Homo sapiens: one gene and its partners. The protein of the gene in region 1 purifies or fractionates together with the protein of each later gene. This does not show direct contact. Each region holds a gene or a part of one and is shown in the gene's direction. Other genes may lie near its edges. The genes, in order: SPTLC2, PTH2R and HEATR3.

Region 1 (3,733 bases):
CAGCCTTTTCTATTCATGAGTATTCATGGTTGAGAAGATTCTAAAACAGTTCTTAGCCCTTTCCAAGCAGATCTTTTAAATTTATTGCTTTGCTCTGTATAACAGAACAGTTGTTTGGATATCTTTTCAAAGATTGACTTACCATAATGTCAAAACCTGCCCAAATATTTAGTCAGTTGGCAATTGCAGACAGAAACGTGTGTTTTAATCTATTTGTGTTTTAGGGAAGATGAGCAAAATAGGATTAAAGATACGATTTTATACTATTACAGATATGTTACTGTTGTCTGGTAAGAATTTTAAGGAAACAGGCTAGGCGCGGTGGCTCATGTCTGTAATCCCAGCACTTTGGGAGGCCAAGGTGGGTAGATCACTTGAGGTTAGGTGTTCGAGACCAGCCTGGCCAACATGGCGAAACCCTGTCTCTACTAAAAATACAAAAGTTAGCTGGGCGTGGTGATGTGCACCCGTAACCCCAGCTATCAGGAAGCTGAGACAGGAGAATCGCTTGAACCCGGGAAGCAGAGATTGCAGTGAGCCAAGATCGTGCCGTTGCACTCCAGCCTGGGCGACAGAGTGAGACACCGTCTCAAAAAAAAAAGAAAGAAAAAGAAAAAAAGAATTGTAAGGAAACAACAAAATGAAACTCAGAAGATGAAAATTTGGGGGTCTAAAGGCTTCATCTCTGGTCTTATGTGTAAAATTTATTTGCAGCACAGTTAATTAGAATGAATCTTAAAGTTAGAAGATGTAAATTCTAGTTGCAGCTATGCCACTTGCTACTTGTAATGTGCCACACACTATTGTGCAACTGTAGGCATGTCACTACCTTGGTGAGAGTCTCCCCACCTATAATATGAAGATAATCATAAATATCCTGCCTACTGTCAAGGGATTTGTGGAGTGCTCAGTGAGGGGGTATGGCTGAAATTCTTTGAGGATGCTAACGCTCCATTAAACGTTTTTTACATTATTATAACTTCTGCTGTTAACAGGTAGAATGACAGAATACAAAATGAGACATTTTACATTTATATTCCATATGGTTTACTCTGTAAAATATTTTATGGTGAAATGGAAAAAAACGAAACAGAACTGATTAGATAGAATGGAGATAGAGGAGATTTACTGTCTTTTTTCCATTCCTTTTTACTTAGGATTATTTTGTTTTCTCTCACCGTGACTTTCCAGGTAAAGAGTGTGTACAACAGTTAGCTGAAAACACCAGGTATTTCAGGAGACGCCTGAAAGAGATGGGCTTCATCATCTATGGAAATGAAGACTCTCCAGTAGTGCCTTTGATGCTCTACATGCCTGCCAAAATTGGGTACGTTTTGTTGCAGATCACAGACCAGTCTGTCCTTATCCTTATCTGTGATGTGAGACCAGGGCTTATGTATTTTGTTAGGGAAAATGGTCTTGTCCTTACTGTGTTAACCTTCATTTGGTACATATGCCATAGATCAAATAGTGGATTCCAAATTGTAAAGTATGTTAATTTGTTCTTCTTTCATTAAACATTTGAGTTTCATGTACTCTCTAGGGGCCTGGGATAGATCAGTGAATAAAATACAAACATCTCTGTCCTTGTGGAGCTTACAGTCTAGTAGGGGGCAACAGTCAGACAGACATAATAAACAAATGAACTGTGTACGATGTTAGAAGGTGTCAAGTGCTATGGAAAAAAATAGAGCAGGACCTATATGGGGAGTTGAGAGTGCCCTGTGGGCGGGCCGATAACACTATTAAATAGGGTGGTCAGGGTAAGGAAGCCTCCTTGGGAAGGAAAATGACATCTGAGCAAAGATTTGAAGGAGCTGACAGCCACTGGAGAAAGAAGCATCTGTGCAAAGGCCACAGTACAGAAGCGAGCTTGCTTAGCTGACGGAAGAGTAGCAAAGAGGTCCCTGGAATTGGAGCACCGTGCCCCAGGGCGAGCAGTGGGCCATGAGGTCAGAGAGGTTTTATCAGAGTGTGTTATTGGATACTTACCAGGTGTGCAGATTACACCAGCTTCTTTGGTTTGTATGAGGCATACATAATGGAAAGCCCTGCCCTAGGATAGCTTTCAATGTATTTGAGAAGTCCAGATGTATAATGAAACCAGAAGACATTTGAAAAGCAAATGAACAGTAATTATACTGAACAAATTTTATTATATGCAAAGTGGCCCTGAAGATGTAGAATAAAGGAGTGACCTGCTTAGTATAGGCTCAGTAAGAAAGGCACATCTTGTTGGATGGGTGAGTTTTGAGCTGGATCTTAAAGCATTTCTCCAGTTTGATTGAACTCATTGAAGGAGCAATTTTTGTAAATTTTTGAATCCCCAGTGTCCACCACAGTCTCCGACACTCAGTAAATGTTTACTGAAATGAATATGGGAGAGGAAATTAAATCAGGGAACCTGGAAGTAATGTGATTCAAAGAGAATGAAAGGGAAGTAAGGAAAAGGTGCTCCCTGAGAGAAAAAGAAGAATTTGGGTTTCAACATGAAGTCATATGGGCAGTTGGTATTATGGCTTCAGAGGGGATGGGGAAGGATTTTCTTCATTCTTCTTTAAGTGGAATTCTCATAAACAAACATGAAGAGTTATCAGATCCAAAGGACTCAGTCTAGAGCTCTCTTTAAAGAAGGCTGTGTCTCCTTTATTCTACATAGGTGCAACTGACTGTGTACACTTTAATTAGGAAAGATTTAGAGAAGGTACAGGACCCAAAAGGGCACAAAAAAGCAATAACTACTAAATATAAGGAAAACAACTCTGTATACAGCATGTATAAAGAAAAGCAAGGTATATTTGGGGAGATAAAAGTTGTAAAGGCATTAAGATGTGTGTTTGTTGAGAAAAAATAAATTTGTGCATTTAAGAAGTTAAAAAAAAAAGATTTAGAGAAGGTAAAGAATTAGAATAAGGCACTAGACAGTTTGGGAGCATGTGCTGAAGATACAGGGCACCCAGGTTCATGCTGACACAAAGGAGGTATGTTGAGGAAGATGTACTGGTACTACAGAGAGTGGGAAAAGGCTGTGAAAAGACTGGCATTAATGTAATGCCAAATGTGCAGGATCTGTATAGCCCAGGCTGGAGTGCAATGGCGTGATCTCGGCTTACTGCAACCTCCACCTCCCAGGTTCAAGCAAATCTTGTGCTTCCGCCTCCCCAGTAGCTGGGATTACAGATGTGTGCCACCACACCTGGCTAATTTTTGTATTTTTTAGTGGAGATGGGGTCTAACCATGTTGGCCAGGCTGGTCTCCAACTCCTGACCTCAGGTGATCTGCCCGCCTCGGCCTCCCAAAGTGCTGGGATTACAGGCACGAGCCACTGGCCCGGCCACATTTTTTTATTCTCAAACAAATGCTGTAAACAGCTTAAAGGAAAAGTTGAAACATAAGGGAGGTCAATAAGAGGAAAAGACAAAAAGCAACATAATTTGGGCCAGGCACAGTGGCTCACACCTGTAATCCCACTTTGGGAGGCCGAGGTGGGTGGATCACAAGGTCAGGAGATCGAGACCATCCTGGCCAACATGGTGAAACCCCGTCTCTACTAAAAATACGAAAATCATCTGGGTGTGGTGGTGCACACCTGTAATCCCAGCTGCTCGGGAGGCTGAGGCAGGAGAATTGCTAGAATCTGGGAGGTGGAGGTTATGGTGAGCCAAGATCGTGCCACTGCACTGCAGCCTGGCGACAAAGCGAGAGACTCAAAAAAAAACCCACATAATTTAG
Region 2 (3,733 bases), on another chromosome or scaffold:
AGTAAGTGTTTAAACACAGAGACAGGTGTTAAAGTCTCCCACACAAGATGCATGCACTCTGACCCTTTAGGTTATTTTGTTTGTTTTCTTGTTGTGATCATATGTATCATATTCAACATTTTTAATTTGTAGTTATTTTAAAGTTAATTTAAAGTTTTGTCTTCACAAAACTTATTTATTTTGTATTGACGTGTCTTATGAAAATAACTCCACTTTGGGAGGCTGAGGTGGGCGGATCATGAGGTCAGGAGATCGAGACAATCCTGGCTAACATGGTGAAACCCCGTCTCTACTAGCCGGGCGTGGCAGCGTGCGCCTGCAGTCCCAGCTGCTGGGGAGGCTGAGGCAAGAGTATGGTGTGAACCCGGGAGGCGGAGCTTGCAGTGAGCCGGGATCATGCCACTGCACTCCAGCCTGGGTGACAGAGCAAGAATCCGTCTCAAAAAAAAAAAGAAAATAACTCAACTTTCAGTAAATGCACATACTAGATAACATTTAAATTTATATTAAATTTACTTAATTTAACATTTAAATTTAAAACAACATTTACATGTCAAGTATTTTTGCCTTTATTTCTGTGTTCTAAATTATGTAACAATTCATATTAAGACTCGTGATAAAAAATCCTTAAAGGATCCCAAAGTAGTTTTCTGTTCTTCATTCTTCCATGGTAGTCTCTATGCTAGTCTTATGCATAAGATTCTCTAAGAAGGTGAGAAAAGCAATTCTATGAAGACATAATGCCTGTGTACGATATTTGACATAATTATCATCTAAAACATAATGCCAACTCAACCACCATTAATAAATACTGTATAGAACAGCATTCAGGAAGTACCTGATCAGAAGAATGTAAAGGAAGCAGAAGATGCAGATATAAGAATGATAAGATGTGAAAATTGATGAAAGACAGGCAGACACTTTTTGAAGACAACCAAGATAGAACAGCTGAGGGATCTATGTCAGGCCATGTGGTAGAATCTATGCCAGACTGTATGGTGGATTTATATCTAATCATCCTACCAGAAGCAGCTGTCCCCTCCCCATTACATAGTATCACTTTTATTTATTCTTCATAGCACCAATTCATAACCAAAAGCAACTGAAGTTGCTTTGTTAATTTTGACTGCTTCACCAGAATATAAGTTTTAGAAAACAGGGATATTGTTTATTTGTTCATTATTTATATCATTTAGAACAATCTTTGACACATAAATAGACAATAAATGATTAATGGAGAAATGTGATAGATAGATAGATAAATAGATAGATAGATAGATAGATAGAATATGCAAACTGAACCTAAGAAATAACCAGAATTAGGTAGGTCTATTTTGACAAAAAATTCCTAGAACACAGAATTTGAGCAGATTAAAGAAAGAATACTATAGAAACAAGAAATAAAATTGGAATATAGAATCATAAAATTCAGTAGTGATATAGGCAGGCTGAACTTAAGTTAGATGGTCACTAAGGAGACCAAAGACATTATTGTGCATATCATCATTTTCATCTTTTTCTGAAAATTTTCTTTTTCTAAGCCTATTTCTTTGTTCACTTTGTTGCTAAGAAAGAATATAAAAAAATTACAATTTTTTTAAAGGTTAAGAATTTAAAGTTATGCTTGATAAAAAATGTTCTTGGCTAGACCAAAATTTTGTTTTCCCCTTTTGTAAGGTGCTTCCTAGATTCTAAAATGTTTTCCTTATGGTTTCTGTATATCCTTTATTTAAACCACTTTCATAAAGGCCACATAATGAAAAGTCATCTCTTAAGTCTTTCAGTCCCCTACTGCAGTATTCCATATAAGTTATGGTTCATGATTTTTTTGTGTGTGATGTCAGAGTTTAATCAAATACAACATGAGCTGGACAGTGAACTTTTACTGGGGGGCAAACGAAAGTCGGTATAATGGATTTGATGTTACAAGCCCAGAAGGTGTTTAGCACTTATGAAGGACAAATATCTCGCGCTCAAATCATCAGACAAATATAGTGGTCACCCTTTTCTATTAATGCATGAAAATGCTTCTGTCTTGTGCCAACGTGAACTAAAAGAAGAGACTAAACTGGTTAAAACTTCCTGATTTTTATAACTTGCCTCAGTATGCCTTCCATTTTTAGGATGAAAAAATTCTAAGTTTTTAAAACAACAGCATCCCTCAGCTTTTCAGGAGTCCCTGTGTTGCTTCACTCCTTGAGAGCATATGATGGTCAGCGTGACAAGAGTCAAAGTCAAATGCCAACCATTGCTTACTTCCAACCCTAGGAACTTCACTCTTCTCCAAATATGGCTTTTCCCTACACCCCTCAGATGAAAATTAGGCCAGTTTTTATCTTCAGACTAGAGGAACAAATAACATCAATATTCTTGCTAATTTCTCAAACTGACATGATTAAAAATTAAGTGGACTTTTCTTGTTCACATATCAGAAATTTTCATGTCTATTTTTATCTCTGAACAGCTAATAGTATATTCTTATATATGGTGAATTTGAGGAAAAAACCTCCTTAATCTTAAAATAAATCTAGTCTCTGAATCATTTTCTGATTTCAGGGTTTCCAGCAGCATTTGTTGCAGCATGGGCTGTGGCACGAGCAACTCTGGCTGATGCGAGGTGAGTGAAAAGGCAGGGGAAACGAGAGAACCTCAGATGTTCTCAAGACTCAGGCTTCCTGCTCAGAATTCACACTCGCTTCTGTTCTTGATGCCATTGCTTTTTAGGGATGCCACAAGGAAAATTACCTTGATGCGATGGTAGCTTCCAACACATTACCAGCAAGCTGTCTATTCCAGAGGTCATAGAGCAGAAACACTCGCAGACTAGATGAAGGTGCCTGACCTCCATAGATTAAGAAACAAATGTAAAATATAATGTGAGAAGCAAGTGGAAAGAGATGGGTAAGAGAATCCACTTAGGATTTAGTGAAAGCAGGTTGAAGAACTACACTACCTGATTCCTAGGATAGGCAGTGTTCATACTCTCTCTCTCTCTCTCTGCCACATCAACTTTTCCTGAGGATGGTGTGGTTATGAGGACCTGCGATAAGGTAGCACGAAGGGGAACTACAGACAGAATCTGGTGCCCTGGGCCAGTGACACATACTTCCTCATAGAGATGGAGAGGCAAGTACACTGGCTACATTTGTAGCTTCTGAATTAGCCTGCAGAGAAGTTCTGGGTTTTATTTGTGGCCCTTGGGAAAAGGACATGTGGGAAGGAGTTCCATCAATCCATGAATCCTCAAAATCAAAATATTTTTGAGGCTGATAATGCCCTCAAAAATATTAAGAACTTCCTTTGTATCAGGGATTGTTCATGGCTCTTGTATATTTAGTATATTATGAATGTTTAGAGCTCAGTTGCCTCATGTGTCTTTAGTACCTGGGTTTAACACACGTGTGGTCTACTAACTCATCCTTATCTATATTTAATGCAAACTGTGGGTTTCATGCATCCCATTTGTTACCATATCTTCTATAGCAGAATTAAATATTTTAAAATAATAAACACATATTAGAAGTGGAATTTATCTCTAACTGTGAGTCATTAAGTTCTTCCAGGTAGCATGGAGCTAATTTAATGTGTCATTTTAAAGTACAAGAAAACAATGCTATAAATCATTTAAAATGTATCATTTTTAAGGATACATTTTAATGTATCATGGTACACCTAATACATTTAAATAACCATTTAAGTGTAAAGGGTACATTTGCATTAAATAGTAAAGAAT
Region 3 (3,500 bases), on another chromosome or scaffold:
AGAAGAAGTCATATCAAGTTGCTTTATTGAGTCATATTATTAGAATATACCCTTTGGCTTGATCTAACTATGTGTATTAATTAGGTAAGTATTTGAAAAGTTGAGCCACATTTTACAATTTAACGTTATTCCAGAGGTACTTTTTTAAAAAAATAAATCTGTCTTTAGTGAAAGGGCAAATTCAGAATTTTTAAAGATGCCTTCTGCCTTTGCTGTTGCATCCAATGTATGCATGTTACATTCTCCTGCTGATGAATGAACAATCCACACCATTTTCCTTGCACACCAGGCAACATGCATTCTGAAAAATACAACACAGTTAATTAATTCTAATACCACTCCATAAATTTTAAGCAGCAACCCTGGTAGTGCCAATATACTAGCAATTCCCTCAGCATATTTGCTCTTACCACTTAGCACAGTTGCTCACAAACTGCACTGTTAGGAGTACAGCGTCACTAGTAATTAAAAGGACAGTCATAGTAACATTACACTTTGGTGTGCTAATAATTGCTGAAGTGTGAGACTAGTGGATAATAAACTCATTATTATAAAGTACCTCTTAACCTGCTAAGAACTTTACAATGATGACTGATGTTTTTAAGAATCTATTTTTGAAAAATGATACTTGCAAAGCTTTTTTTTTTTTCTTTTTTTTTCTGAGATGGAGTCTCAGTCACCCAGGCTGGAGTACAGTAGTGCAGTAGTGTGATCTCGGCTCACTGCAACCTCCGCCTCTGGGTTCAAGCAATTCTTCTGCCTCAGCCTCCCGAGTAGCTGGGATTACAGGTGCCCACTACCACACCTGGCTAATTTTTGTATTTTTAATAGAGATGGGGTTTCGCCATGTTGGCCAAGCTGGTCTTGAACTCCTGGGCTCAAGCGATCTACCTACTTCAGCATCCCAGAGTGCTGGGATTACAGGCATGAGCCACTGCACCCGGCAACAGTTATTTCTTAGTGTGTCTAATTCCTGGTCCATATTCATAATTTTACAGTTGCCTCAAAATTATCTGTTTACAGAGAGCTTGTTTACACTGCTGAAGTCCACATGTTATGTTTCCTGTGGGGTCTTCTCTTTCTCTCTTAATCTTGAACAGTTCCTCCCCGGCACCACGTGGTTATTCTCACCTCCTGGATCAGTTGTCCAATATAGTGTCCAAAACCTTCTGGATTTGTCTGATTGCTACCTTGTGGTGGTAAATTTGTTTTTTTATCCTTGTATTTCCTACAAACTGACAGTTAGATCTACAGACTAGATTCGATTCAGATCAGTCCTATTTTACGTTTTTTAGAGATGAGGTCTTGCTCCATTGCCGAGGCTGGTCTTGAACTCCTGGGCTCGAGCGACCCTCCCGCCTTAGCCTCACAAAGTTCTGAACTTACAGGTGTGAGCCACTTGCAACTGGCCTAAAGTGTTTTTCTTATGCTTTTAAAAGCAGATTTTTTGTTGTTGTCGTTGTTGTTACAGATAATATTTCTATGCATCTTGACATCATGGAGAAATCCTTTTTGAGAGAGGTAGAGGGGAAAATTTAGTGATTTCCAAAATCATACATCATTTATGGATTTTAATTCACTTTATTTATGAATATAAACTATAATATGTTTAATTTATCTTGCTTATACTTGGTATGTTTATAAGTATTTAAGTCTAATCTCTTGAAGTTTTAATTTTTCCCTGGCATTTGTATATAAAATAGTATGCATGAGTTATTGCCACATTCAAAGTTGGTACTTGTTTTGGAGACTGGTGTTAGTCATACTAAATGTGTTTTGTTGTTTCCAGAACATTGGGTGCTTTCTGCTTGAAGTTACCACCAAAGATCCTTCCCTTGTGGTAGCAGGAGAAGCTTTGGATGCCCTCTTTGATGTTTTTGCAGATGGTAAAGAAGCCGAAAGAGCCTCGATTCAAATTAAATTATTATCTGCTCTGAAAGAATTCCAGCCGGTCTTTAAAATGAAGGTTTGTAGCCATTTAACTTATAAATACATAAGTCTGAACATTCTGTGGGGACAAGGGTGTGTGTAGTTACCGCTGTGCAACTCAGAAGCATGTGCATGACGAATCCCCATATGTAGCACAGCATCCCCAGTACTTTGTAAAATGTTCGTTGACTGAGTCATAGCTCAACAGTGTGACTACTGAATCATTGAAACTGAAGCTAAAATGGTATCTGACAAGTTCTTCTTTTTTTAAGTTTAGTAATTTTGACAATGCTTCATATATGTCAGTATTATACTCTGTATTTTGCAAAGCACTTTCATACACATTTTGCATTTATTTAATTTTACTTTTTTTTGTTTTTTTGAGACAGAATCTCACTCTGTCGCCCATGCTGGAGTGCAGTGGTGCGATCTTGGCTCACTGCGACCTCCCCTTCCCCAGTTCAAGTGATTCTTGTGCCTCAGCCTCCCAAGTAGCTGGGATTACAGGTGTCCACCACATCACCCAAATAATTTTTGTATTTTTAGTAGAAACGGGGATTCGCCTTGTCATCCAGGCTGGTCTCGAACTCCCAACCTCAGGTGATCTGCCCACCTTGGCCTCCCAAAGTGCTGGGATTACAGGTGTGAGCCACTGTGCCCAGCCATATTGTTCTTAAAGGTTACAGTCCTTTAAATTTCTGGATAAAGAGCTTGCAAGATAAGAAAAAAATATCCCCTATTTCCCTGCAGCTTCAAGGAAAGCAGATATATTAATAGTTAGAGTCATCAAACTCTGCAGAAGCAGGTGCTTAAAAAAGGTTAAACAGTGAACTGGGAAAATAACCCCTGACTTCTGAAAGGTCTTTGTTCTGATTGATTTTCCTACTCAGTATGTATTGCTGTGGTAATAACATTTGTTTTTCTTTTATCAAAGGTATAAAGCTCTAATGAGATTTCTTCCTAGCCAGAGGCTAGCCTGTAGTTATTTATGTGAAACTCTTTTTTTTGCTAAATGAAGCCACAATTTGTGTTAAAGGCTATTCAGTGTATATTTAGCTGCAAAATGCATTTATGTACAATCAAGAACTTCTCTTGAGCAGTGTTTCTCAAAAGTGCCCTCCTTGTATCAGCAGCATCAGCCCTTGCCTGATAACTTATTCAAAATGCAGGTCCTCGGCCCCAACTCCTGACCTACTGAGTCATAGACTCTGTGGATGGGCCCACCAGTCTATTTTTCAACAAGCCTTCCAGATGATACCGTTGCACACTAAAACCTGAGAGCCACTGCTCTAGACTAGAGGTGAGATCAAACTCAGATTCCATACAATTGATATAAAAAACCACAGGCCAGGCGCAGTGGCTCACACCTGTAATCCCAGCACTTTGGGAGCCCCAGGTGGGAGGATCACTCGAGTCCAGGATTTCAAGACCAGCCTGGGAAACATAGCAAGAACTTGTCTCTACAAAAAAATTTTTTTAAGTTAGCCATTAAGTGGTGGCTCATGCCTGTCATCCCAGCTACTCAGGAAGCTGAGCAGGAGGATCGTGTGAGTGCAGGAGTTGGAGGCTAC

The links.
Region 2: the proteins of SPTLC2 (region 1) and PTH2R purify together in Homo sapiens (co-immunoprecipitation; one large-scale study listed by IntAct). This does not show direct contact.
Region 3: the proteins of SPTLC2 (region 1) and HEATR3 purify together in Homo sapiens (co-immunoprecipitation; one large-scale study listed by IntAct). This does not show direct contact.

The regions. Positions count from the first base shown.
Region 1 is NC_000014.9:77,519,040-77,522,772, reverse strand, and holds part of SPTLC2 (serine palmitoyltransferase 2), read left to right. Parts: intron 1-1,191; coding exon 1,192-1,327; intron 1,328-3,733. UniProt on the Homo sapiens protein: Component of the serine palmitoyltransferase multisubunit enzyme (SPT) that catalyzes the initial and rate-limiting step in sphingolipid biosynthesis by condensing L-serine and activated acyl-CoA (most commonly palmitoyl-CoA) to form long-chain bases.
Region 2 is NC_000002.12:208,448,193-208,451,925, forward strand, and holds part of PTH2R (parathyroid hormone 2 receptor isoform 1 precursor), read left to right. Parts: intron 1-2,556; coding exon 2,557-2,617; intron 2,618-3,733. UniProt on the Homo sapiens protein: This is a specific receptor for parathyroid hormone. The activity of this receptor is mediated by G proteins which activate adenylyl cyclase. PTH2R may be responsible for PTH effects in a number of physiological systems.
Region 3 is NC_000016.10:50,100,470-50,103,969, forward strand, and holds part of HEATR3 (HEAT repeat-containing protein 3), read left to right. Parts: intron 1-1,789; coding exon 1,790-1,966; intron 1,967-3,500. UniProt on the Homo sapiens protein: Plays a role in ribosome biogenesis and in nuclear import of the 60S ribosomal protein L5/large ribosomal subunit protein uL18 (RPL5). Required for proper erythrocyte maturation.